Linked DNA regions of Homo sapiens: region 1 is linked to region 2. A link means that fine-mapping ties the variant in region 2 to the expression of a gene that starts in the linked region. Tissue or cell type: whole blood. Region 2 holds a variant in brackets; the other region holds the start of a gene. All regions are shown on one strand. Distances are between the middles of the regions. Region 1 holds the start of ADM2 (adrenomedullin 2). Region 2 overlaps SBF1 (SET binding factor 1).

Region 1 (2,903 bases), 30 kb before region 2:
CGGGGTGCGGGGTGCCTGGGCTGCAGGCTGCTGGAAGGGCTCCGGGCTGGGGGCTCCCTGCAGAGGCAGATGGAGAATGTCAACCAGATGGCTCAGCCTTTTGGAGAACTCACACCTGCCCACTTTTGCCTCTACACAGGCCTGGGTCACTGCCAGGGGAAGCCCACAGCCCCCATCCACACACAGCCTGGAGCACGGCCAGGGGAAGCCCGCGTCCCCTCTGGGCTTGGGCCTGGGACCATCTCAGTGGCCCGGGTCACGTGTCCCGGGAACCGGCACCTCCTTGGCCAAAGGGCACCCCGGCGGCCCAGCCTCTGCGGGTCACCACTCTCAGGGCTCAGGGTGACTCGGCTTCTGCCCTCCCTTTAGGGTGGTCACAGGCCGGCCAGGGATACCGCCAGCCTCCCCTCCCCCAGCAGACACCCCCAGAAGAGGGGCTGCTGTGCCCATGTGTGTGGGGAGGAGCAACTGCCCTGTGTAGGGAGGCAGAGAAAGAGGGGCCTCTGGCCCTGCTCAGGCGCTCCTGAGCCTGGGGTAGGGGCCTTTGTTTGGGAGGGGAGTCCTAGCAGCAGGTGGAGGCGTGGAGGGAGGGCGGCCCCGCGGCCCCCGGCACTCTGCTTCCCTGCGGGGGCCAGAGGGGTTGGCTGGCCCAAGACCTGGACTCACCTGGGTTTGACGGGTCGCGGGTCCCCGCCCAGGCTGCGGGACAGCGAGCCAGGGAGCTGCAGGCAGAGGAGGCTGATGCAACCCAGGGCGGCCGTCGGGATCCGGGCCATGGCGGGCGGGGCTGCAGGGGAGGGGGCGGTGAGCCGGGCACGTCGGGGGCAGCCTGAGCCGCGAGCCACCCCCTCCGCCGGCACCTCGGGGAGTCCTCCGCGGTCGGGGCGCCGGGCGTGGGCGTGGCAAGCTGGGCACGGGCGTCCGTCGGGGCGCAGGCCTCGGGCGCGAAGCGGGCAGCGGGTCTGGGGTCGGCCGCGGGTCCGGGGCGCAAGGCGGAGCGGGCTGGGCGGGTTGGGGGTCCTGCCTGGAGCGGAGTCGCGGCCCGGGATGGCACCTCCAGGGCTGAATACGTAGCCTTTCCAGCAAGGGGCGGAGCCGGATGCACGGACGGGGCGGGGCGCCCCTCCTCCGGGCCCAGCCACCCTCGGGGCGGGGAGGGGGCTGCGGCGAAGGGAGCGGTGGAGGGGCCTGTCCCCGCTGGGAGCGCTCGGCGACCGGCCCGGGACCGCGGGACCGCCAGCCTCACTCCAAGCGCCTTCTGGTGGGGACGCAGCCCCGAGCCTGCGGGGGCCGGACTTCCCCACGCTGCAGCGGGGTTCTGGGGGGCGAACCGTCGTCCGAGCTGATCCCACGGCTGGGGCGGACTCGGACCCGACGGGGCCCACCCCGTCAACCACCTCCCGAGTCCGGGCGGTCCCACCCTCCAGGGTCTGACCCGGTGGACCCCGGCCCCCCAGCCTGACCAGCAAGTCCGCGGGATTCCGCAGCGGGCTGGCCATTCCGCTCTCCTCTGACGCGGTGCCGCCGACCCCGGGGCTGCGCTCCTAAAAGGCTGTACCGACCCTCGGCCGCTCCAACCCCGGACCAAAGTATTGCACGGTTTTTGTAACAGATTTAAAGTGTCCGGGCGCGGTGGCTCACGCCTGTAATCCCAGCAGTTTGGGAAGCCGAGGCGGGCGGATCACGAGGTCAGGAGATCGAGACCATCCTGGCTAACAAGGTGAAAGGCCGTCTCTACTAAAAATACAAAAAATTAGCCGGGCGTGGTGGCGGGTGCCTGTAATCTCAGCTACTCGGGAGGCTGAGGCAGGAAAGGCTGAGGCTTGAATCCAGGCGGCGGAGGTTGCAGTGAGCCGACATCGCGGCATTGCACTCCAGCTTGGGCGACAGAGCGAGACTCCGTCTCAAAAAAAGAAAAAAAAAAAAGAAAAAGAAAAATTTAAAACGAGTGAAACGTGAGACTCCCCTCACCATTGCCACCCACTTGGGACCCCTACCCTGGTCTGGGGGGGAGCCCTCTCCTGACTTGCCCTGGGCACACCTAGGTGTGGCTATGTGAGGCACACACATCCATGTGTGCAGATTTGCAGTAGGACTGAGACCCCGTTCTTTCCTGAGAGCTTGTTTGGAGGTCCTGGCAGAGGAGCGCAGCTACTCGAAGCCCGGTCCTCCATCCTCTTCGATGGAGCGTGCAGCTTCGGAGGGACGCACAGGGAACAGTGGGGAAGGAGGGGGACACCTGCCTCTGAGCCAGCCACATCAGCCGAATCAACACTGGTGACCAGTGGGGTGACAGGCGTCACAGCCCGACCGTCCTCACATCAGAGACCCCACTCTTTCCTATGGTTGGATCTACTCCAACATATAGGTGTTGTATGATTCATCTCATCTGCTATTAATATGAAATTAGGTGACTGCCAGTCTTTTCATGAGTTGCTGCCTTGAGCTCACAGATGTGTCTATAGGACACCTTCCTGGAAGTAGAAATTCTGGTTGAAGGTGAGCATGTGTTTATGTTGATAGATGGTTCACTGTTCTCCACAGAGCTTTCGCCTACCCACTGTCCACGAGTCCTGGACTTGGTGTCACGGGTTCCAAGCTGCTGAGACTGGCCTCTCTGTTGGGTGAGCTGAGGATCTCTGCGTCCGTTCGTGCTTCCCCTTCTGTCTCCCCAACCCCTGCGCTCACCCCGTAACCCTCCTGCTGACACACCATGGGAGCACAGTCAACATTTGCTGGGTGAATAAGTCGAGGAGTGCCGAGCACACACCCCACAGGCCGATCTGGGAGGGCAGGGATGCCTTGCAGGTATTATTTACTTATTTTGACCAGTTGAGGGGGCAGGGAGTGTCACATTTATATGTTTTTTTTTTTTTTGAGATGGAGTCCCACTGTGTCACCCA
Region 2 (2,869 bases):
GTCACACATTTTATTTTTACGTATGACATAAACACCCAGTATGGTTTTTTTTTTTTTTTTTTTTTTTTTTTTGAGAGATGGAGTCTCCCTCAGTCACCCAGGCTGGAGAGCGGTGGTGCGATCTCGGTTCACTGCAACCTCTGCCTCTGAGTTCAGGTGATTCTCCTGTCTCAGCCTCCCAAGTAGCTGGGATTAGAGGCACCCACCATCATGCCCGGCTAAATTTTTTTTGTATTTTTAGTAGAGACGGGGTTTCACTGTGTTGGCCAGGCTAGTCTCAAACTCCTGACCTCAGGTGATCCGCCCGCCTTGGCCTTGCAAAGTGCTGGGATTACAGGCGTGAGCCACCGTGCCCGGCCCTGTTTTTGTTTTAAATAGTCAACTTTGTTTTAAGGAAATTAAGAAAGAAGGAAAAAGTCTTCTATTTTTGCCATTTATAACATTCTTCATTCTTTCAGTATAATCTGGTCTGGTTATTATTTCTCTTCAGCCTGAAGAATTTTTAATATTTCTTGTAATGCAGAGCTGCCAGTCACAAATCCCCTCAGCTTTTGTTTATCTGAAAACATCTTGGTGCCTTTATTTTGCAAAGGGCATTTTCTCTGGATATGCATTTCTAGGTTGACAGCTGCTTCTTTTTTTTTTTTTTTTTTTTAATTCAGCAGTTAAACTGATGTCACTTTAAAAGATCTCATTACTAGGCTGGGCGCAGCGGCTCACGCCTGTCATCCCAGCACTTTGGGAGGCTGAGGCAGGTGGATAACCTGAGGTCAGGAGTTCGAGACCAGCCTGGCAAATATGGTGAAACCCCGTCTCTACTAAAATATAAAAATGAGCTGAGCATGGTGGCGGGTGCCTGTAATCCCAGCTACTCAGGAGGCTGAGGCAGGAGAATCGCTTCAACCCGGGAGGTGGAGGCTGCACTGAGCTGAGATCGCGCCACTGCACTGCAGCCTGGGCGACATGAGTGAGACTCTGCCTCAAAAAAAAAAAAAAAAAAGATATTACTTTGTTTTCTGGCCTGTATTGTTTCTGCTTAGAAGTTGGTGTTGATTCTTATCCTTATAAACTGTGTATAATGGCACCCTTTGATTCTCTGCCTTAAGATTTTGCATTTAATTTTGGCTTCAGCAATTTGACCATTGTGGTTTTTGCTTTCGTCCTGCTTGGGGCTCTTTAAACTTCTGGGTCTGTGGGATGATCATTTTTGTCAAATTTAATACATTTCAAGCCATTGCTTCTATAAATTACTTTTTCTGCATGATCTCTCCCTTTCCTTCTGGAACTTTATTGTCCCATACGTTGCTGAAGCTCTGTTTGTTTTTTCTCAGTCTTTAT[C/G]TTTGCAATTCATTTTGGATGATTTCTGTTGGCTTGTCTTCAAGTTCACTACTCTTTTCTTTCTTGTTTTTAATATACTGAAGCCCATCAAATGAATTTTTTTTTAATTTCTTGAGACAGGGTCTTGCTCTGTTGCCCAGGCTGGAGTGCAGTGGCACAGTCATGGCTCACTGCAGCCCGAACCTCCCAGGCTCAAACAATCATCCTGCTTCATTCAGCCTCTTGAGTTGCCAAGACTACTGGCGTGGGCCACGTGCCGGCTACTTTTTTTTTTTTTTTTTTTTTTTTTTTGTAGAGATGGGGTCTCCCTATGTCACCCAGGCAGGTCTCAAACTCCTGGGCTCAAGCAGTCCTCTCACCTTGGCCTCCTAAAGTGCTGGGATTACAGGCATGAGCCACCACACCCGGCCCCATCTAATGAATTTAACGCTTTTTATTGTAGAGATTCCCCATCTGATAAACCATTATGTCCATCTTTTCTTTTAAATCTTGAAACATAACTTAAAAATATATATAAAGATGGGGTCTTGCCATGTTGCCCAAGCTGTTCTCACACTCCTTGGGTCAAGCGATTCTCCCTCCTCGGCCTCCCGAAGTGCTGGGCTTACAGGCGGGAGCCACTGTGCCCTGCCTGTGTTGTCTTTCTTTAAGCTTAGAGTCTTGGGTTTTATTCTCGCAGGTAGGTAATGAGCTTGTGCGTCAGCTTGGTCTGTTTGAAGCTTGTTTCTAAGCTTTGTTTGGGCAGCTCTCCAGCACCTCTAGAGAAGCTCCAGGGATAGAGCAGCCCAAGGCGTGTGGCCTCTCCAGGGCTTCAGTTGGAGTTTTGTGTCTTTGTGTCTTCGGTAAGGTCTTGCCACACTGGCTTTTTGGAAGTCCAGTATCTTTTAGCATTCCTCTAGAATTTGGGTTCAGCTCATAGTTTTGTTTTTTTTTTTTTGAGGCAGAGTCTCACTTTGTCTCCCAGGCTGGAGTGCAGTGGCGCACTCTCGGCTCACTGCAGCCTCCACTTCCCATGTTCAAGCAATTCTCCTGCCTCAGCCTCCCGAGTAGCTGGGATTACAGGTGCCCGCCACCATGCCCAGCTAATTTTTGTATTTTTAGTAGAGACAGGGTTTTGCCATGTTTACCAGGCTGGTCTTGAACTCCTGACCTCAGGTTATCCACCCGCATTGGCCTCCCAAAGTGCTGGGATTACAGGTGTGAGCCACTGCTGCCGGCGTCAGGTCATAGCTTCTTAGTAGCTGTTCTCTGCCAGGCCTTGTGACATCTTGCTTTGCACATGGCAGCCTAATTTGGCCAACGACTCAAGGAGGGCTCTGTCTAGATTTCTAGAGCCCCTTTGCTGTGGTGCTCCCTCCCCTCTGTGGGCTGCCCTGCAGACCCAGCTGCACTAGCGCCCCTGGACGTCCCGTCTCTGCCTCCTCGGCTCAGCAAGCTCCCGTGTGTTGCTCTGGCCCTGCCTCCCTGCACTGTGGCTGGGCAGAAAACAGGTGACTGTGGGGCCCATCTTATGTGGTCCCATGTCTTAGGC

The links. PIP is the estimated chance that this variant, and not a neighbour inherited with it, causes the effect.
Region 1: ADM2 starts here. The variant in region 2 is the best candidate, but not a certain one, in a credible set for the expression of ADM2 in whole blood (INTERVAL, PIP 0.83).

The regions. Positions count from the first base shown.
Region 1 is chr22:50,479,721-50,482,623 of GRCh38, reverse strand. ADM2 (adrenomedullin 2) reads right to left here and starts at 1,081. Exons shown (of 3, transcript NM_001253845.2): 1 at 861-1,081; 2 at 667-787; 3 at 1-57. The coding sequence starts at 776. RefSeq lists silencers at 835-954, 1,005-1,294.
Region 2 is chr22:50,449,927-50,452,795 of GRCh38, reverse strand. All of the region lies in intron 36 of SBF1 (SET binding factor 1), which reads left to right. Among named protein-coding and RNA genes, the nearest start is that of SBF1, 24 kb to the left of the region's middle. The variant C/G (reference allele first, on the strand shown) is at 1,339.